3 separate regions of the Homo sapiens genome follow, and all the other regions are reported to be linked to region 2. Evidence: microRNA targets listed by miRTarBase, many of them from high-throughput screens and not tested one by one. Region 2 holds a microRNA gene; each other region holds the end of a gene's coding sequence.

Region 1 (7,000 bases), not on the chromosome of region 2:
TTGTCTCTGATCCTAAGTCATGCTAGTCTAATTCTCACAGAAATAAAACATGAAGAATTTTAAATGGATTTTAAAAGTTGCTTTCAAGCACTTTAGTTATTTTTTGTTTGTGTATATGTTAAGACCATAGATGACAAATGTGAAACAATTGAGTAGATATTTGTGGCAAATGAGTAGCCACATGAGGCAAATATATAGATATAAAGCCTCATACAAGGTGATTCTGGCTTAAGAGAAACACTCAAGGCTTTTAAAAAGTATTGGGCTTTGGGCCAGGTGTGGTGGCTCATGCCTGTAATCCCAGCACTTTGGGAACCTGAATCGAGGATCACTTGAACTCGAGTTAAAGACCAGCCTGGGCGATGTGGCGAAACTCCGTCTCTACTAAAAATACAAAAATTAGCCAGGTGTGGTGGTGTGCACCTGTAGTCCCAGCTACTCTGGAGGCTGAGGGAGTATGGGGCAGGAGAATTGCTCGAGCCTGGGAGACAGGTTGCACTGAGCTGATATTGCGCCACTGCGCTAGAGCCCAGGCAACATGAGTGAAACCCTGTCTCAATAAAAAGTATTGGGCTTTGGTTTTATATGAGGTCTTCAGAGAAACCACCGTCCAAGTTTTGCACTATGTCTCTCTTAAAAACAATTAAAATAATAGTATATGATTTTTTTCCTCACATGGAAAAAGCTGATTTTACAGTTAGACAAATGTATTTACTAAACATATTTTGCAAACAGGACATAACACATACCTCAATTATTTGAAAAAAATCACAAAAGTATCATTTCAGTCCATATAAGTATAATTGCTTTTAATAAAGTTAAACTCCTAGAGAATCATTAAAGAAGAAAAGCCAGGGGCCATGAGCTAATTAATCAGCACCAGTAATTAGGTTTTAAAATTGGCTTTGTTAAGGGCTAGCTTTAAGCAAATAACTTGTTCTTAATTGCCTTTGTTCCTTATATATAAAATAGAAATAATAATAATACTTATCCATACTTTGTCACAGAATTAACGTGATGATAATGAGGTAATAGATGGGAAAGAACTCCAAATAGTTAACAGTACCATAAGGTAGAGTTTTAGTGTCAGATATAGTATTTTACAATGACATATATGGAAAATTCCTTCTTTTATAATGATGGAAATATCCTAACAGTTTTAAACATAACCCAAGAAGTAGCAGAGAAGAAAGTATACTGAAGTATACTGAACTTTTATGTTCAAATTACAATAGCTCTACTAGATATGTGTGTGTATTTTAAGGCTTATAATTTGTAAACACTCCAACTATTAATAATAACGTATTAAGGAATTATAAGTGGCCCTGTACGTAGGCATTATTTTCTCTTTAATCAGGTTCACTGAGTATTGGGAGACCTAAGAAAGTTAATTATCTTAACAACTACATTATTATTGCATTGTAGCAGATGTATTTTGTGGTTTTAATTTTGACGGAGGTGGAGGATGGGGGGTGGTTCTTAGGTACTTTGCATATTTGCATTCTTTTTTTTTTTTTTTTTTTTTTTTTTTTTGAGATGGAGTCTTGCTCTGTCGTCCAGGCTGGAGTGCAGTGGCACGATCATAGCTCACGGCAGCCTCCACCACCTGGGCTCAAGTGATCTTCCTGCCTCAGCCCCCCGAGTAGCTTGACTACAGGCGTGTGCCACCCTGTCCAGCTAATTTTAAACAATTTTTTGTAGAGATGGGGCTCACTGTGTTGCCCAGGCTGGTCTTGAACTCCTGATCACTCAAGTGATCCTCCCACCGCAGCCTCCCAAAGTGCCAGGATTACAGGTGTGAGCCACCTGGCCCACATTCTCCTTTTTGTTTCAATACAGACATTAAAATTTTAGGCCAATTTGAGTTAGATTTTTATTATAACTGCTTTCAATTAAATCAGCTTCATAATCTGTTGATACTGCCAAGAAGCCAGAGTAATGTAAAGGAGAAAGAGTAGGGTTTTGTGTTAGATTGTGTTTGAATTATTACTCCACTACTCACTGGGTATTTAATTTCTTTGACCTTCAGGCTGGGCACGGTGGCTCATGCCTGTAATCCCAGCATTTGGAGAGGCCCAGGTGGGCAAATCACCTGAGGTCAGGAGTTCAAGACCAGCCTGGCCAACATGGCAAAACCACATCTCTACTAAAAGTACAACAATTAGCTGGGCCTGGTGGCGGGCGTCTGTAATCCCAGCTACTTGGGAGGCTGAGGCATGAAAATTGCTTGAACCCGGGAGGTGGAGGTTGCAGTGAGCCCAGATCATGTCATTGCACTCTAGCCTGGGTGACAAGAGTGAAACTCCATCTCAAATAAAACTGAATTATTTTAAAAAATAATAATTTATTTGACCTTCAGTTTCTTCATTTGTAGAATGGGCATCATAGTATGGTATCTCTATCTGCTTCTGAAGGTTATCATGAAGACTAAATAGGATATTTGTCAGCTGGGTGCGGTGGCTCACACCTGTATTCCCAGCACTTTGGGAGGCTGACACGGGAGATTCACTTGAGCCTAGGAGTTCTAGACCAGCCTGGGCAACATGGCAAAACCCCGTCTCTACCAAAAATACAAAACTTTGCCAGGCATGGTGCACATCTGAGGTCCCAGCTACTTGGGAGGCTGAGGTGGGAGGATCACTGGAGCCCAGGAAGTAGAGGCTGCAGTGATCTGTGATTGTGCCACTGCACACCAGCCTGGGTAACAGAGCGAGACCTGGTCTCAAATAAAAATTTTTTGAAAGAAAATTATTTTTTTAAAAAAGGTATGTGTCTACCTCAGTAACTGGTGTATTATTAGATGTTGAAGTGAAGTTATTCACCACCCTACTGCCCCAAGCGCACTTACTCATATGTAAGTTGTGTAATATTTGTTTCCTCTTTGTTTTATGGAATCTCTTGAGGGGGAAGAAAAAATCAGCAACTATTATGCTTTTCTTGAAACTCCATATATAGCTGGGATGATATTCCTGCATTATGGATTCCTAGAAATGTTTTATATGGCATCTTATTGTCCACAAAAATGACAACATAGCAGTAAATGAACAGGAACATCATAAGTTAATTGTTAATATGATGAACGCGTTAGTTATAGAAGTCGTTAGCTTTCTGTAGTCTTGGGATTCAGGCTTTCTTAATTCACACCACCCAGGTTTAGAGGGCCTATTACTATTGAGTAGGATAAAGAACTTCTCTGTTGCATGAGATTCATAAAACCTAAGAATTCAATTTGGAGTTCTTTAGTTGGTCCCACTTAAAATGTACAGCTTGCTTAGCTAGGAGGAAGGATCAGGTTGCTCTAGGTAGTTGAAGTCCCTTTTAAAAATAATTGCTACTCTAAAGAGAAGAAGGAATTAATGAAAGTGGTTCATAAAATCATTGATTTCTTTTATTTTTTGTTTTGACATGAAAGCAGAATGGACATTAGCAGCTACTATATATGAAGGGCATTTTGCCTGGTATAAGTATATTTTCTTTTTCTTTTTTTTTTTTTTTTTTTTTTTTGAGACGGAGTCTTGCTCTGTTGCCCAGGCTGGAGTGCAGTGGCATGATCTCACTGCCACCTCCACCTCCCGGGTTCAAGCGATTCTCCTGCCTCAGCCTCCTAAGTAGCTGGGACTACAGGCGTGCGCCACTGTGCCCAGCTAATTTTTGTATTTTTAGTAGAGACAGAGTTTCACCATGTTGGCTAGGCTGGTCTTGAACTCCTGACCTCAAGTGATCCACCCGCCTCAGCTCTCAAAGTGCTAGGATTGAAGGTGTGAGCAACCATGCCCGGCACAAGTATATTTTCATGGGTTTAGTCCTCACAGTATATCTGTGAGGTGGGTTGGTGGTATTTTCATTTTACAGAGCAGGAAATTGGGTCTCAGATAAGTTAATTTTAAGTAACTTTCATGAGGGCATATGGTAACAAGTGGCAGAGCTGATATTTATTATTAGTTAACTATTTTTGCTGTTTGTATGTGTAAGGGGTGGTTTTTTTTTTCATTTTTTTTACATGTAAAATGTAAAAATATTAGACATCCACATCTAAATGTAAAAATGATATTTCTTTTTTTTTAAGTCAGAAAACCAGTTTTCTTTTTTCTTTTGCTTTAGTCAGAAAGCCATAAAAACCATATTTAAATAGGATCAACTACTGTTTTTTAACATAACTGAGATTTGAACCGAGATTAATTTGGTTCCAAAGCTTATGCTAGGCCTTGGAGAATACAAAGATGAATGAAACCCCATTCATCTTGTTGATCTTGCAGACTAATGGAAAGGATTGACATGTGAGTTCATGTAGTACTCTGTTAAAAGTTAGATAGGATTCCAGATGAGAATGACAATGCTGGGGAAGATTTTTCCAAAGGAGGTAGCCTTTGAGTGAGTCAGATAGTGAAAAGTGAAATGGTGCCTGGTAGAGAAGGCATACATAGGCAGTGACAGGGTATGGAGCTAAAACCAGTCTTCTAGAGTTTTTCTCTGTAAGTTGTTAATAGACATTTTAAAGCAGAGAGGAATGGAAGAGTGGAATAACGATGATGGTAATAGTTTAAGAAGCATTTTGGACCAGGCATGGAGGCTCACGCCTGTAATCCCACCATTTTGGGAGGCCGAGGCGGGTGGATCACTTGAGGTCAGGAGTTTGAGACCAGTCTGGCCAAGATGGTAAAACCCTGTCTCTATTAAAAATAACAAAAATTGGCTGGGCATGGTGGCCGATGCCGGTGATCCCAGCTGCTTGGGAGGCTGAGGCAGGAGAATAGCTTGAACTCTGGAGGCGGAGTTTGCAGTGAGCTGAGATCATACCACTGCACTCCAGCCTGGGCGACAGAGTGAGACCCTGTCTCAAAAAAAAAAAAAAAAAAGCATTCAGAAGGAGATGCTAAGGGAGGTTGGTGGTATAAGAAACATCTTTTAATTTAAACATATTTCCCATTAAAACCACCTATTCAACTTTCATGTAAATCTTGTAAAGAGACGTTTCAATATTTAGTGTGAATATTTTGTTAATTAGATGTAGCAGAAAAATAACGCTTTGATGGGCAAAATTGCTGTTCAGATGATCTTGAAATAAAGAAGTTTTTAAAGCAATTTTTATATACTTTTTATTATTTAGCAATACATGTTTATCATAGAAATTTAAGAACCTAAGTAATACAAAGAAAGTAAGGATTACCTTTAATTAAGAACCTAAGTAATACAAAGAAAGTAAGGATTACCTTTAATCAATAAACAAAGATAAACTTTTGGAGGGAGCATATACCATTCCAGTCACTAAGTAAGGTTTTAATATTCAGATTCCAGAATTCTGATCAATCAATGGCTATGTTTCACACTTCTTTAAATTAAAAAATTTTCTATCTTTACATATTTTAGTGACTGAATTACCATGGCGTAATTGAGAGTTTGGATTTATTATGGTACATTCCGATTTCTATTTAATACATAAGGTACCTGATTAAAATTTTAGCCTATTTGGTTAAATACTAACAATACAGGTTGCTATTACTCTTGTCTTACTACCAATTAGACATTTCTCAGAATGCTAAAGCAAGAAGGAACCTTAAAAACTTATCTGGCCGCGCCCAGTGGCTCATGCCTGTAATCCCAGCACTTTGGAGGACAAGGCGGGCGGATCACGAGGTCAGGAGATGGAGACCATCCTGGCTAACATGGTGAAACCCCGCCTCTACTAAAAATACAAAAAATTAGCTGGGTGTGGTGGCGTGTGCCTGTAGTCCCAGCTACTTGGGAGGCTGAGGCAGGAGAATCCCTTGAACCCAGGAGGCGGAGATTACAGTGAGCCGAGATTGCGCCACTGCACTCCAGCCTGGGCGAAAGAGCGAGACTCCGTCTCAAAAAAAAAAAAAAAAAAATTGTTTTCCTTCTCATGTTACAAATGTAGATGCGATGTGTTTCTTTCAAGCTTTTGTTTCCAATGACATTAGTTTAGGTTTTCTTTTGTTTAGCTCTCACTTGATTGCAGTCTTCTTTCTTTCAGGTCAGACTGTTTTTCCATCTTTCGGCCAATGGTACAAAAAAAAAGGAAACTGAAGAGAGGAGATAGCATATGCCAGAGAAGTAGAAAGAGCCATTGTATGTCTGGGTATAATCATATAACCAGCCTGGAAGGAAGGAATGATTTCTGTTAGGGAAGGAAATTTTGCCATTAGTAACTCTCAGCCATGAATAGCTCCTCAAAGCAAGGAGCCTCCTGTATTGTGACCCATTTGAACTTAGTGAAGCTTCTTAGCTGCCCTATTTTTCACTGATGAAGTTGAATCAGCTCCACCTGAGTTAGGGACTTACACCATCTCCAATCTTACAGTGGAAGTTGGAGAAAATTAGGAACACATACCGTTTTATTTTACCATGAATTTTATTAGAAGGCCGCTATTATGAAGAAAATAATCATAAATTATTGTTTTCCAGAGAAAAAAAGAAGTGATAATAATCAGTTTTCTTTTTTTTCCTTTACTAAACAAAGACTTGAGTACTTACTATATTCCTGTTAATATTGCTAGGTGTTGAGGATACACTAGTGAGCCAAAACAGATACGGTCCTTGCCCTCACAGAACTTTAGTGGGGAGATAGGTACCAACCACATAAATGATATGTGATAAGTGCTATGAAGGGAAGGTGCAGGAGGCTATCAGAAGATATGAGAAGGAACTGACTGCTTGATCACGTGGGTTAAACAATGACAAGTTCCCCCCTGAAATCTAAATGCTTTTTTTTTTTTTTTTTTTTTGAGACAGAGGCTTGCTCTGTCACCCAGGTTGGAGTGGTGTAGTGGCACGATCTCTGCTTTGCTTACTGCAACCTCCACCTCCTGGGTTCAAGCAGTTCTCCTGCCTCAGCCTCCCAAGTAGCTGGGATTACAGGTGCCCGCCACCACACCCGGCTAATTTTTGTGTTTTTAGTAGAGACGGAGTTTCGCCATGTTGGCCAGGGTGGTCTTGAACTCCTGACCTCCAGTGATCCGCCTACCTCGGCCTCCCAAAGTGC
Region 2 (8,202 bases):
TTTTATGTGACTAAAATGCCTATTACATCAGAAGCCCTACTGAAGCAAAAGAGAGTGGCTTTCACGTTACAAAAGGAACTTTTCAGACTTGACTTTAAGAAGTTAAAATCATTTCATGTAGCTAAAATTATTTTAGTGACTATTTAATAAGGTGTGGTTCTTTCCATGTAGAACATTTTAAGCTCTTACATAATTATTCAGTATTGATACCCACATTTTATGACCATTTTCTTTCATTCTTGTCTATTTTTAAACTGTTTACATAGATTTCTTCTCTGCATTTACTGTGTATCCTGGTTTTTCTTCACTTGAAATCCATCATGAAAATAAAATTTTAAAATAAGGCTGCCTTCATAAAAGGTTAACTTTCCAGGAGTTAATGCCATCATTTAAGGAGAGATTGCTTTCTCTTCTTAGCTATGAGTTCCTTAGAAAAGTAAAACAGCCTAACCTTGAATTTTGGGGGAATAAAAACAAAGTTTTAGAAACTGGTAAATATTTTTTATTTAGAGATTTTTAAAACCTGAATAATCATCTTAACATTGTTAACCCATTGTCAGGTGGTAGATGGCATCATTCATTCATTCATTCATTCATTCATCAAACCTTCACTGAGAACCTCCTTTAGTACCAGACAAACCCTGGATACATGTTGTGAATTTCTTCTGATGAAATGAAGTTAAGTTAAACGAAACATGGTGTTTCTTCCCTAGTAGAGAGATGGATAGGTAAACAAATAATTGTAATAAAGTATCAGTTCTGTGATCTAGGCATATGCAATTATGTGACCTAGGCACAGTATAATGGTGGTAAAAGGAAAAATGAACAATTCCTCCTCAGGTTGGGGGAGGGGTGTGGGTGTTAGGGATGACGCTGACCAGAGAGGATTCACAAGAGAGAATACTTGATTTGGGATTTGAAGACTGTATGGGCACTTGCCAGGTAGAAGAGTAAGCAGAAGTGCAGAAACAGAATAAAGAACAGGTTTGTGTGATTTAGTTCTTCAAGTGTTTTCACCCTTTCAGTTGTGACAGAATTCAGTATTCAATGAGCATGGGGTCATAACTTTGCAGCCCAGCCCATTCAAGTTATCATTCTTAGGGCTCTTTCCTTCTCCACTTCTCTTCCTATTCTTTCCCTCCTGCATGAAAGGCCTTATGAAGCCCAAGCCAGGCTTGTGAATTACCCATGACTTCTCCATCTCCACAGTGCCTCTCCCCTCAGCTACTCACTCACTGAATTCTGCTGTTCTTCTTGTCTTTATAATTTCTCATATTCATTTTCTCTGTGTTCTTACTGCCTCTTCCCTAATTAAGGCTCCCATGCTCTCCCTTACACTACTGCAGTGATTCTTTTCCTGTTTTCCTTACCTGCCACCTTAAAGCTAGAGTAAATTCTCTAAAGTACTGACATGGTCATCCCACTTGCCTGCTTACTATCTTTCACTCGTACCCATCGTTTGGAGATAATGCCCAAACCCTTTAACCTGGCACATAAGGACTCCCATCTTTCCCTTGTGTCTCTCCCCTTACCCTTCACCCACATGCATCTTTGACTCCACCTCTGCTGAATTCTTAAAGGCCTCAGCATACATTACCTTTGTCTTTCTTTCTCTATTGGATGACTGTTCTTTCTGGTACACTTTAAGCTACACTATCTTCTTCACTGCCCACCCCTTCCAAATTCCCATTAGCACCATCTTCACCTAGCTAATTTTATTCAGGCTTCAAGACTCAGCCTGGCTATTAGCCAACTCAGAAGTGTCTTTTGACCCATCATAACACTTATAGTAATGGTGTATGTGTCTGTCTTGCAAATTAAGCTGTGTCCTTCTCGAAGGTAGGGATGATACCCTTCATTTCTCATCACCTAGAATTTAAAACATTGCTGATATATGGCAGGCAGTCACAATTGTTTGTTGAATGAATGAATGAATGAATGAAATGAGTAAGATCCTGTAACAGTTTGGAATTATATGCCACCTGGGTTTACAGTGTAGTCTCTTATCAGGTAGGTTTGTTCTGAGATGTATAGTAATGATGACTTTCTTCTTCGCCCAAGTATTTTGTGTACCTTAGACCAGTTTAGCAAATGAAGTCCAAGAACTATTTGAATAAGTCATTCTTAGAAAATAACTTTAGGAAGCAACTGACTCCATTCATGTGTATGCCTCTAATTGTAGGTTCACTTCTGTCCGAATATGAATTTTTAAAATAATTTTAGCATTATATTAGCAATTTGCAATATACCATTTTTATGCATGTAAAGTTGTATTCTAACATATTTACTTTTTGCTCATTTGATTAAATTTATTACTGTGTATCCCATCATTAAGGTAACTAATTTTCAGTAATTAAACTGTTGGTCTTCTGTTTAGCCATTATTCTCAGTTCTGTGCAGGAGTGAGCTGAAACAAAGTTGTATAGCCCAGAGAGTGAGAAGCTGCATTTCATGTCTCCCAACAGTCAGAAAGGGATTATGTACTGTTTAAGGAAGGAGTTTGGCGAATATTTTGAAACCCTTTTGGGAAAGCATAGAATATTGAAAATCCAAAATTAACCAAATCCGTGAGTGTGCAAGCTCAAAGCTAGAGACCTTAGGAATATCTTAGGATGTGCAAAACAGGAAGAAAACAAGAACTGAGCAGGCAGCACTAAGTAAGTGTCATATAGCCTCCCCACCCACCCTTCCAACCCTACTCCTAAAAGAGCCATAATTTAGTCCCAAGTATACTTTTCTGATCTTTTCCTGTGACATATTATGGTATCTTCAAATGGTACTGGGTTTCCTGAGGCTTGTGCTGCTGACTGCCAACCCCATCCTAGAGAGCACTGAGCGACAGATACTGTAAACATCCTACACTCTCAGCTGTGGAAAGTAAGAAAGCTGGGAGAAGGCTGTTTACTCTTTCTGCCTTGGAAGTCAACTAAAGAGAAATGGATTTTGAATATTTCTATGTCTTAGAATTGATCCTATCCCGTGTTTGTTTCTGAGGTCAACTGTAAAAGGAAAAAAGGTGAATTGACTAAGTCATCCAAAGAAATGTAAGATAATCTATAATATCAGTTATATTTGAACTGTTTCACTTAGTTTAAAAAGAAAAAAAAGATTACCAAATACCCAAGTGACAAAAGTTCTGGTTAACTTGTATGAGGCTACATTTTGTGGGTTGCTGCAGTCTGATCTGTAAAAGCAACACATTACCTATACGTTAAGCTAAACATTTCTCCTTTAACCTGAGAGCATTCCACACTGAAGTCTGCTTTTCTTGAAGCAAAAATTCTAGTGTCCTTGGACTTGCTATTTTATCAGGGATCAAAGGCACCTTGGAGCCCCATGCTTTAGGAATTGTAATGGCAAACAATAAGGTCTGCTCTTTAAAGCTAGAATATAGTTACACATTTCAGGAAAAAATAGAATTGTTGTTGGAGGACGGGAGAGGAAGGAAAATGTAGAGGTAAGGGATGGGATGCAAGAAGTTAATTTTAAGAAAAATCTACAGAACGAACTCATAAGTTCAGCCTTAACCAGAAAAACTCTTTCATGTAAATCGTTTAAATCAAAGGTCTATTAAACATCTAATCTAGAATGTAACTTACCTGAAATTTGAGTCCATTGCTGATTTATTTAAAATTATTATGAAATAAGCCTTCTTGTTAAAGAGAATATTTAAATAAGGCATATTTTTATATAACAAGCCCTTAAGAAGTTAAATAATTAACTTAATGCTTCTATTAAAAATTAAACAAATCTGAACAAAATTACTCTAGTCTTGGCATATCAGCATATATCAGTCATTTAAACTAAAAGACACTCTACTACTTTAGAAGTATTAGAGGAGCTTTTAATTTTACCTCCGCACTGACTGTAGAGCCTAATACAATAGGAGTAATTGTTTCATATGAGTTTATAGAAAAAAAGTTTAAATACAATGACTTTAGCATGTGATTTCAGGGAAGTATTTGAACAGGCTGGCCTTGAAGCAGTGGTAGACACTGTTGAAGTGCCAGCTTGATTGAGTCATTTACCTTTTTAGGTTTGCCTACAGGCTTAAGAAAACCCTCTTTGAAACAATGCTCTACAGTCTTCTCAAAGAAATAATTGTTATAGATGTTTGAAATTTTGCTTTCTGCTAGGAGAGGCAGATAATATGGGTAAGGGGAAAAGCAACTCTAAGCAGCAGAGAATGATGCATATGCTTTGCCATAGCATTTTATTATTCTGCCTAAATTAAAAGGGGGGACATTCAAATATTCCAGATCTAAATTTATGGTTAACTTTTAGTCATGAATGTAGGTGTTTCAAAGCTTATTGAAATACATGCTGAAATTCATTCATCATTCAAGAATTATTTATTGAGCATCTACTATGTGAACTTCTAGGCACAGGGGATATAGCAGAGAACAGAAACAAAGTCCTTTTTCTCATGGAACTTACAAGAAAATATATAATGTGTCAAAATATAAACATCTTGTGTATCTATGTAAAATATCTAATTTTATTCAATCTTTTTATTGCCTTGTCCTCCAAAACCAAGTGTATTTAAATATTCCAGAATATTTCTTTCATTGACTATGGAAAACTTTGATATAAAGCTATATAATTTTGGTTTTTGTTTAGTATTATTCTTCTAGATATGTTCTAGTTGTTAACTAGCCTGTTTTGTGACATGAGTAAGTAGGATTATTAAGCATGCTTGAGAAGTTATATATATATATTTATATATTTATATATTTATATATATTTATATATATTTATATATATATTTATATATATTTTTATATATATTTATATATATTTATATATATATTTATATATATTTATATATATTTATATATATATTTATATATATTTACATATATTTATATATTTACATATATTTATATATATTTATATATATTTATATATGTTTATATATATTTATATATGTATTTATATATATAAATATATATATGAGGGGGCTTCAAAATATTCATGGAAACATTGAGTTAAAAGCTACAAATAAAAAATATAAATTTTATTTCTCAGAGTAAGCTCCATCAGGGTCAAGACACTTTTGTAAGCAATGATACCAGACATTTATTCCATCCCTAAAGAACAGGGTCTTGGGAATTTCACCACATCAGTGCCATCTTTTTAACATTATTAACTGAAGAAAAATGAGTGCTCTGACAGATTTTTTTAAGATTAGGAAACAAAAGTCCAAATGAGCCAAATCAGGACAGTAAGGTGGATGCCTAGTGACATTCCACTGAAACTCTGGCAAAATTGCCCTTGTTTGATGAGAAGAATGAGCAGAAGCATTGTCATGGTGGAGAGGGAGTCTGGTATAGCTTTCCTGGACATTTTTCTGCTAAACCTTTGGCTAGCTTTCCCCAAACACTCTCATAATAAGTAGATGTTATCATTCTTTGGCCTTTCAGAAAGTTAACAAGCAAAAAGACTTAAGCATCCCAAAAAACTGTTGCCATGACCTTAGCTCTTGACTGCTTGGCTTTTCTTTGACTGCACCACATCCCCTTCTTGGTAGCCATTACTTTGATTGTGCTTTGTCTTCAGGATCATACCAGTAAAGCTGTGTTTCATCTCCTATCACAATCCTTCAAAGAAAAGCTTTAAGACCTTGATCTCACTTGTGTAAAATTTCCACTGAAAGCTCTGCTCTTGTCTGCAGCTCATCTGAGTGCAATGATTTTGGCACCTATAGAGTGGAAAGTTTGCTCAACTTTAATTTTGCAGTCAGAATTGTGTAAGCTGAACCAGTTGGAATGTCTGTGGCGTTGGCTATGGTTTGTACTGTTAATCATCAGTACTCTTCAATTAGGGCACAAACAAGATTTTTTTTTTCCTTGCAAATTGATGTAGTTTGTCTTCTATAGTGGGCTTCATCTTCAACATCATCTCATCTTTTCTTAAAATAAATTATTCATTTGTAAACTGCCAATTTCTTTGGGGCATTGCCCCCACTAACATTTTGTAAAGCAGCAATGATTTCCTGATTTTCCCACCCAAACTTCCCCATAAATTTGATGTTCTTGCTTTAATTTTAGCAGAATTGACATTGCTCTGATAAGGGCTCTTTTCAAACTGATTTCTTATCCTTTTTTGTGCCTCAAAATAGATCCTGTTCAGACATGTTACAAATTAGTACAAGTTTATTTTGATATAAGAAAAAATTGAAATCCATGTATAGTTTTTCCATAATATGTATTTTCCATGAACTTTTTGAAATTCTTCGTATTTGCTGAGATGATATTGCTAAGGAGTTATATAATATAAAAAGTTACATGTTTGTGTGTTTATATATGTTGCATATGTTATATATATTCAAATTATCATTGTATCTGATACAAGTAAACATATTAATTTGAACCTAACTCTATTCAAGTTTGTAACTCTCTAAATACTGGTAAGGATGATTTATCTTTATGTTATGTTTATATATTGGTTGCTAAGCAAACGCCATAAAGACTTTAAAAGAACAGATTACTTTTAAATGTAAACATCCATTTATATTTGAAAAAAGACATAAGCTTTAATTGACAAGCTTTGTAAGCCTAATTGTGTCATTAAAAACTCAGTAGAAATAAAGGTATCATATGTACTTTATTCATTTATGAATTTATAGTCTCCTTGTCTCTATTTGTTCGAATTAGTAATTCTTTATAATACCTAGTGGTGATATATTTCTATAAACTACTCTGGCTTAGATTTCTATAAATGTAAATATAATTCTGCTCTCTCTCTCTTTTTTTTTTTTTTTTTGAGACAGAGTCACGCTCTTGTCGCCCAGGCTGGAGTGCGATGGCGTGATCTCACCTCACTGCAACCTCCCCCTCCCGGCTTCAAGCAATTCTTCCGCCTCAGCCTCCCAAATAGCTGGGACTACAGGCGCCCGCCACCATGCCCGGCTAATTTTGGTATTTTTAGTAGAGACGGGGTTTCACCATGTTGGCCAGGCTGGTCTCAAACTCCTGACCTCAGATGATCCACCTGCCTTGGCCTCCCAAACTGCTGGGATTACAGCCATGAGCCACTGCTCCCGGCCTGCTGTCATCATTTTAAAATAGCAGAAAGCAGGTTATTAATTACAAAATTGGGTTTTAGGTGTTATTTTGGTTAACTTTATCATTGGAAAACTATATGGTTAATATATAAAAATCAGTTGTATATCTATATATCAGCAACAAACAAATAAAAATGAAAATTTTTAAAAGATACTTCTTATAATAACATTAAAAACTATCAAATGCCCAAGGGGAAATCTAACAGACGATGCATAAGACCTCCGCACTGGAAACTAAATATTATTGAGATAAATTATAGAAGACCTGAATAAATGGAGAGATAAACCATGTTCATAGAGAACAGGACTCAGTATTGTTAAGTGGCTAATTCTCCCCAAGTTGATCTGTAGATTCAGTACAGTCCCAATCAAAATGTAAGCAGGTGTATGTTTGGAAATTAATAAACTGATTCTAAAATTTAGAATTCAAACAGCAAAAGCTAGACAAGATAATCTTGAAAAAAAGATGGAGAAATTATGCTTCCACATATCAAGATCTGTTACAAAGCCATAGTAATGATGAGAGTGTGATATTGGCACAATGGCAGACAGATACACAACAGATAAATGATAAATAGAATAGACACACTATTATGATAAAGATGATACTGAAGTACACTGGAGACAGGATGGTCTATGGATCCTAATACGAAAGGTAAAACAAGGCTTCTAGGAAGTAATATATAGAATATCCTTATGACCTTGGAGTGGGCAAAATTCCCTTAAAAAACTCCCAACACAACACCAACCAGAAAGAGAAAAAACTGGTAATTTGGATTATAATACCAAGAACTTCTGTTCATCAAAAGACAACATTAAGAAAATGAAAAGGCAAAATATACCAGAGGAGGTATTAGCAACACATATAACAAACAACTTATATCCAGTATATATAAAGAATTCCTATAAATTAATTAGAAAACACAAGCAACCCAGTAGAAAAATGAGCAAAGATTTGAACAGATAATTCACCAGAGAGGATATGTAGATGATCAATTAACATAAAAAGTTGCTCAACCTTATTAGTCATCAAATAAGTGCAAATGAAATCACAGCTCAATGGCAAGACACAACTACTAGAATGGGTAAAATTAAAAAGACAAAAAAATCTGGTATTGGCAAGGAGGTGGAGTAAC
Region 3 (7,000 bases), not on the chromosome of region 2:
GAACTAGTTCTTGCCTTTTGGCCCAAGGTCATGCTCTGTTGGGTTTCATTGGCCTTGGGAAATGGTAGCTTAGTCTCAAAGGTGACAAAATATGGGCGAGACATTTTGGGAGCCAGGTTCTATCCTTTCTGTCATGTGCAATAAAGTGGGTCAAATCTGCCATCAGAGGCAGAGACCCCAGGCTCTGGGCTAATCCTGCAAATTCAAAAACGAAAATGTGGAGACGGCACAGCCTTCCGGCCTGTGCAGCAAAGTGCTCGTGTGCCCAGATCCCTCAGTCTGTGTCTTCCAAAGCCTCCCAGGGTAGAAAGCATTCGTGTGTGAGGACTTCTCCCAGCCACAGGGAATGTGGGGGGTGGTCCCTTCCTGGCAAGGCCAGGAGTCCACATTAGTGCTTCCTTTCTCAAGAAGCCAGTCCCCACCACAGGCCTGCCCCGGCTTGCCTATCATGTGTCATGGTCAAGTACCAGCACGCCAAAGCCCATTTTTCTGTTCACCGCAGACCCTCCTCTTCTGATCGGCATCTTATTCCTGTGGCCTTCGTGTCTGAGAAATGGTTTGAAATCTCCTGCTGACTGGCCGAAGTCTTTTTTACCTCCTGGGGGCAGGGCAGACGCCGTGTGTCTGTTTCACGGTAGGTACCTCTCTTTGGACATTCCTGTTTTCGTTCCCTTTCCTCCCCTCCCCACTGCCCTCCCCTGCACTCTTTGGGATCACTGGGAGCTCTTTTAGACATGGCGGGTGGATTTCCAATGGCATCACTTCTCTGAACATGAGCCGGCGGGGGGGGCTGGGCTTTTGACCTTGATGTTGGATTTGTTAGAAGTGCCCTCCCCGTCCCAGGGGAGGATAGTAACAGACATTCATGCACCCTGATTCCACGTCCTCACTATTCTTATCAGTGCCACTCCTTCCCTCAGGAAGGCCACCACATGCGTGGCCTACGTGGCAGGGAAAGTCATTCCCTAAAACAAGCGACAATTACAGCTCTCATTTCCCACAACAGGAGGAGATTAGGACAGCGGCTAGGGAGGCAGGAATCGCACCTCCATCACATGTCTTTACATCGGGGGAGGGCGCAAGGCAGAATTAAAATACAATTTTGAAATATAAAAATAAGAGATAAGAAAGAAAATGATAAAGAAAGAAAGGGAAGAGTTGAGACATCTACTAATTTGAAGCCAGGAACCGGCACCAAAACAGGATGAATTTTCCACGCTCTGCTGGATGGGAACATTTGGTTTGCTTTTAGTGATATTAACTTTAATGCTAACGTTAAATTGCCTCCTTCTGTGCTGAGTCTTCAGAGCACTCGGGCTGCTGAGGGGAGAGAGCATTGCGCCCTCATGGCTGCACATCCCATGCATTCTATAAGCACAGCCCATGGGTGTGACCTGAGGTTTTCGTGTTGTTTTCATGGTTCTTTTCGACGCTGGGCTTTCTACGCATCCTCATCTTGCTTCCTTCCAAAGGTGACCTAAGATCCCTTCCATGAGTAGGGAGCCGTATTTCTAGGATAGAATACCAATATTTGAAAATATTTTTTTCTTACTTTTTGCCCACCATCTGATATGAGGGACAGAATGGACAAAGTCCTCAGGGGCCCGCGGACAGGGAAGGTCTGGAGGACTCAGCTGGCTGCACCTTGCTGGGGGCGGGGAACCAGCTGCAGTCAGAGAGGGGAGTGAATCGGTCAGTTCCTCATCCTGGCACTAATGAACTGCATGTTTGCTCCAAATCAAATCTCCAGCCCTCACTCCCTACCCCGAAGCCAACATGTTCTGCCAACTGGCAAAGAAACGTAATTAGATTAGAATATGGGAACCGAGCTGCCCTGCAAGGGCCTTTGCTGCAGCAGGTAAGAGGCGGGTTGCCCCCACCATTCAGTGGGGGGATGTGCAGCCTAGAGCATCCATCAGAAGCCAGTGCCTTTGTCTGCCTCACCGCAGCTCCCCTCATGAAGGGAGCCCCTACTGGAGTGCCAACCAAGCTAGCCGCAGGGAGCTGGCTTGCTAGCAGTGTAGTCCGCGACCCGCCTGGTAAAGCCTCTGTAGGGACTGGGTCCTGATGGTTGCCAGCATCTCTGTTATGATTTTTAAAATTTGTTAATGCACAATTCATTGACCTGGGAGATGCAAGGCCTTAGAGTCGAAGACCCTCACTCCCTTCCGCCAAGAGCCACAGACCCACAGAACTGGAGAGGTCAACTCGGGGGGACAGCCCCGTAATACGGATGTTTGCACGGCAGCTCGTGGAACACTTTTTACTTGCCCAGTCCTCCCAGCAATCTCATTTACAAGTGGGGAAACCGAGGCAGTGGGAGGTTAAATGACTTGGCCGAGGTCAGCTCCCTAGGGGAGAGGGGACAGCTTTCTAATGTTTGCACGGCAGCTCATGGAACACTTTTTACCTGCCCAGTCCTCCCAGCAATTCCTTTTACAAGTGGGGAAACTGAGGCAGTGGGAGGTTAAATGACTTGGCCGAGGTCAGCCAGGTTGTTAGTGGTGGGGCTGGATCACCCGATGGCTGCCTGGCTCCGGGACATCCCCTGCCTACTCCACAGGCCTGAGCCCAGGGATCCTTCTTTTCCATTAGAACAGGAGCCCGCAGCACTGACTTTAAAAAAAATAAAAAGATAAAATAGGGCAAAAAAAAGTGTTTTATTTACTCATCTGCCCCAGAAAACCTTCGTGTCTCATCAGCCTGGTCCTCCCCTTCCAGCAGCATGGGGCACTGAAGACCCCCCAGAAATACTGTTGGTGGGCTAGCCCTGTGCTGCAGCCCCAGGCAAAGGCAAGAGACATGGGCGCCCCCAGATGGGCCCCAGGTGGACCCCACTTCCCAACTGTGCCTGAGGAGCTGTTTCAGGACCACCGGCATTTACACAAGGAAACATCTCTGTGTCTAAAGAGCTGACCCCCTCCCTGTGGCTCTCAGGTAGGTCGTCCGCAGAGTTCAGAAGAGCCCGTGAGGCTTACTGAAGGCAGCTGCGCTCAGCCTGGGAATCTGCCGACACGAAGCCACGGCCCACTCCTGGTGGCCTCCTGAAGTAGCTGTGGACCAGGAGGGCTATGCACACAGCCTCGTTAGTCCTTGATAAATGCTTATAAGATTCTGTTGCCGATTGCGGGACAGACCGTTTACCACTCACTAGGATGAAAGCGTTGGGATTCTAAGTATCCCCTGAATCTTGCAATTAATGCCTGGACATGAGCGTCGGGTGCAGAATAGCCAGAAACATCTCTCAGATTTGCTGGGGTACTTATTGTCCCTAAATAAATAGCAATTAATACTAAAACATTTAATTAAGGTTTAAGAGCCAGTGGAGCTCTTTCTCTCTCACATAGCTGGGAAGCCTCTCCAAATGCATTTTTAATGACGATGCAGCCGTTTGTTACCACACCATTGTCTTTCTTCTCAGTCTAATCCGTGTGCACATTTGGGACCCAAAGTCAGCCAAGTTCGTTTTCTTGCAGGCGGTTGTCCGGAATGCCAGTGGCTCCTGGGCAGATGTGCACCCCAGATTCAGCCTTTGTGATAGATTCCAACACGTTCTGGCCTCAGACCACCTTTGTGGTGGGGCCAGACTGCTCTGGGCAAAGTGAAGCTGGCCTTTATGCTCCAAGGAAGGGGGCCTCGAGAGCAGGCCTGCATTGGCTCTCGGACTAATTCGCGATCATCTTTCATACAGCAGGTACACTTCAGCAAACCTCGTTAATGTTGATCTCTTTCCCTTTGCCAAGGCCGCTTCGTTCTGAACGGAGCCTGCAAAGTCATAAAAGCTCTTGAATCCGAAGCAAGTGAGAAATAAATCATGCACTATTATTATTTTCAAAAACACATTGATCACTAATAAAAAATAAGAAGTGTACCTGTGCCTTCCCACTTTGTTCTTCCAAAATATACATTAATAGAATATCAAACTTTTGTTATTCAAAGGAGCCTGTTTTTCAAAGCAACATCCATACCTTTCTGGAAGCTGTGCTTGCTGAGCTGAGAACAGTACCACGAAAACTTTGAGAGAAAGTAGCCACTTCAGATTGTCAAGAAATTCTGCTCTGCCCCGGGGACACCTGGCGGTAGCCTGTTTGCTCTTTATTTATGTATTTATTTTATGTATGTATGTATGTATTTATTTATTTTTTGCAAAAGCAGACAGTGGTCATTACACCCAGTGCGCCACTGCGTAGCATGCAGCCCAGTGGGGCCAGGCCAGCCGAGAATCTCCTTCCAGGCAGCAGAGGGCAGAATTTATCCCAGATCCCGATCTGGAAGATGGCTTTGCAAGATACATACAGCTTCCCTTTTTGCCCAGGGAATCTCAGGTGGACATTCACCTTCAGCCACGTTATTTTCCAGCCATGGGGTCCAGGCCCCACCTTATCTGTCTTTCCCAGCTGGCCTGGGATCCTCAGTCCTTCTCTGGGCTTAGTGCCAAGATGAGAGGCTCACGTGCTAAGTGTGGCGCAGAAAAACACAAGCAGCTGAAGTTTGAGCAACAGAGTTTTGGCAGAGCATGGACAACATGAGAGCCTCCTCCTGGGCCAGGGGCTGTGACCACACCTTGGTCTTGCAGGAAACCTCTCCACCCTCTACAAAGCCAGCATGGCTCTGGAAATGGTCATTCAAGGTGCAGGATTGGCGCCATCTCTCTCTCTCTCTCTCTCTCTCTCTCTCTCTCTCTCTCTCTTCTCTCTGTCTCTCCCCCTCTCCCTCTCTCTCTCTTTTCCATCCTGAGACACAGAGTAGAGAGAGATGCCTGTAGTCTTGGAAGAGACTCCCTTCCCTGCATAGCCGGGGATGTCTGGCATAGGCTGCCACCCACTCGTTGATCCTCCACGTCGTGTCTGTGGCTCCCTGCATCAGCATCTACCTGCAGGCAGTCCCCAGAGGTTGTTTCATGCCATTAGGGACGGGTCTTAGCGACTGAGGACAAAACTGCTTCACACCTCTGCCGCGTCTCTGAGCCTCATCCGGTGTTTTGATTCCCTACTCCGGGCCAGGCACAGAACTGGAACCTGCATGAACCAGTGGTGAATGGGCAGGAGACCCCCGTTCTCAGGAGGCTGTGCTGCCAGCAGGGGATGCCTTGCACATCTGCCCAGATAAAGCTCGATGCAGATGGTCCCATACCGAAGATGTCACCGAGCAAGTGCTGCAGGAGACAGAAGTAAAATAGGGGATGTGTGTAGGAAGGAATGGGGCATCCAAGAGGCCCTCCCCAGGGAGGTGTTCTTTCCAGCCAAAACCTGAAGGATTTGAGGCTTGAGATTTGCAACTTGAAATCAGGGAAGCTGGAACGTAGAGAGGAAGAAGAAGAGGAAGAGTGAGGTGGAAAGGTGGCCAGGACCCAGTGCAGAAGGATCTGATGAGCCAGCATGGGAAGTGCAGGAGGCTTTTTTTCTTTTTCTTTTTCTTTTTTTTTTTTTGAGACAGAGTCTCGCTCTGTCGCCCAGGCTGGAGTGCAGTGGCTCGATCTCAGCTCGCTGTAAGCTCCGCCTCCACCTTCACACGGGAGACTTTCACATGGGAAAGTGGCAGGATAAAGTCTACATGGGAACACCTCCGGAGCACAGCCAGACAGACGCAATGGTTGGAAGCTGCTCCTCCGGCCTTTATTCTCCTGTTTAAGGTCAGGATTAAGGATTGGAAAGCAGCCGGGGCCACAGTTCAGGCAGGAAACTATTCTTATTAAGGTGGCAGCCATATGACTTACGGTCCAACCCTGAACACATTCCAGAGCAAAAGGTTGGCCTTGTGAGTAATCAATGATCAGGGAACACAGGGACAGCAGCTTACAACCGGTGACAGTCCCAGGACACCGGGACCCAGTGTAGGGTCTCGAAGCCTAGCTTCTGGTGGCCCGAGGATTTTTATCTCCCTTTTAAGAAAAATTGTAATTGTAGTAAATATATGTAACATAAAATTTACCGTTTTAGGCCAGGCACGGTGGCTCACACCTGTAATCCCAGCACTTTGGGAGGCTGAGGCCGGCGGATCACCTGAAGTCAGGAGTTTGAGACCAGTCTGACCAACATGGCGAAACCCCATCTCTACTAAAAATACAAAAATTAGACGGGTGTGTGGTGTGCGCCTATAATCCCAGCCACCAGGGAGGCTGAGGCAGGAGAATCGCTTGAACCCAGGAGGCGGAGGTTGCAGTGAGCTGAGATTGTGCCACTGCACTCCAGCCTGGGTGACAGTCTCAAAAAAAAAAAAAAAAAAAAAAAAAATTACCATGTAACCATTTATGCGTGTCTAGTTCAATGGCATGAGTGCCTTTACCGTCCTGTGCAGGCATCTTCACAAGCCAGCTCTTCACCTCCTTCCGTCACCCCGTATTAAAACTCCGCACCCACTCAACACTCACTCCCCGTCTCCCCCCATCCCCTGGCCCCCAATTCTACTCTTCGTCTCTGTGGATTTGGTAGCTCTGGTACTTCCTGTAAGTAGAATCATACAGCATTCGTCTCTACATTTTTTAACTTTCAAAAAAATTACCAAGATGGACATATAAGAGGGATATTTCTCTCTGTGTTGTAATAATTACTTCATTTTTTAAGCCCCTCTTCCCCAAATCCGGGGAATGTGGAAGAGGTGGGCAGGGGTGGGGCACAGCTGGAGTAAGGCTACCAAGAGTGATCTGGCGCTAACCCAAAGGCACGTCCCCTTTCTTTTTTTTTTCTTTTTTCTTTTCTTTCTTTCTTTCTTTTTTTTTTTTTTGTGGGACACAGCCTCACTCTGTTGCCCAGGCTGGAGTGTAGTGGTGCCATCTCGGCTCACTGCAACCTCTGCCTCCCGGGTTCAAGTAATTCTCATGCCTCAACCTCCCAGGTAGCTGGGATTACAGGTGTGCGCCCCCATGCCTAATTTTTGTATTTTCACTAGAGATGGGGTTTCACCATGTTGGCCAGGATGTCTCCTTTCTTTACATGCAGTGAACCCTGTGCCCACAGCAGCTGGTCTTCCCACAGTAGCTGAGCGGACACTCCACTGTAGC

What was found. Region 2 holds the annotated microRNA hsa-miR-30c-2-3p (CUGGGAGAAGGCUGUUUACUCU, at 2,887-2,908, shown strand). A microRNA usually pairs through its seed, bases 2 to 8, with sites in the 3' UTR of a target mRNA and lowers its output. Matches are read on the target gene's strand: a 7mer-m8 pairs with bases 2 to 8, a 7mer-A1 pairs with bases 2 to 7 and ends in A, and an 8mer does both.
Region 1: miRTarBase lists SLC16A4 as a target of hsa-miR-30c-2-3p. Seed matches in the 3' UTR shown: 7mer-A1 at 5,740-5,746.
Region 3: miRTarBase lists AJAP1 as a target of hsa-miR-30c-2-3p. The part of its 3' UTR that is shown has no 7-base or 8-base seed match.

What each region holds. Positions count from the first base shown.
Region 1 is chr1:110,357,778-110,364,777 of GRCh38, forward strand. SLC16A4 (solute carrier family 16 member 4) reads right to left here. Exons shown (of 9, transcript NM_004696.3): 9 at 5,080-6,116. The coding sequence ends at 5,989. Among named protein-coding and RNA genes, the nearest start is that of RBM15, 22 kb to the left of the region's middle.
Region 2 is chr6:71,371,670-71,379,871 of GRCh38, reverse strand. It overlaps MIR30C2 (microRNA 30c-2), which reads left to right and starts at 2,841; the gene lies at 2,841-2,912.
Region 3 is chr1:4,773,925-4,780,924 of GRCh38, forward strand. AJAP1 (adherens junctions associated protein 1) reads left to right here. Exons shown (of 6, transcript NM_018836.4): 5 at 503-634. The coding sequence ends at 575. Among named protein-coding and RNA genes, the nearest start is that of AJAP1, 120 kb to the left of the region's middle.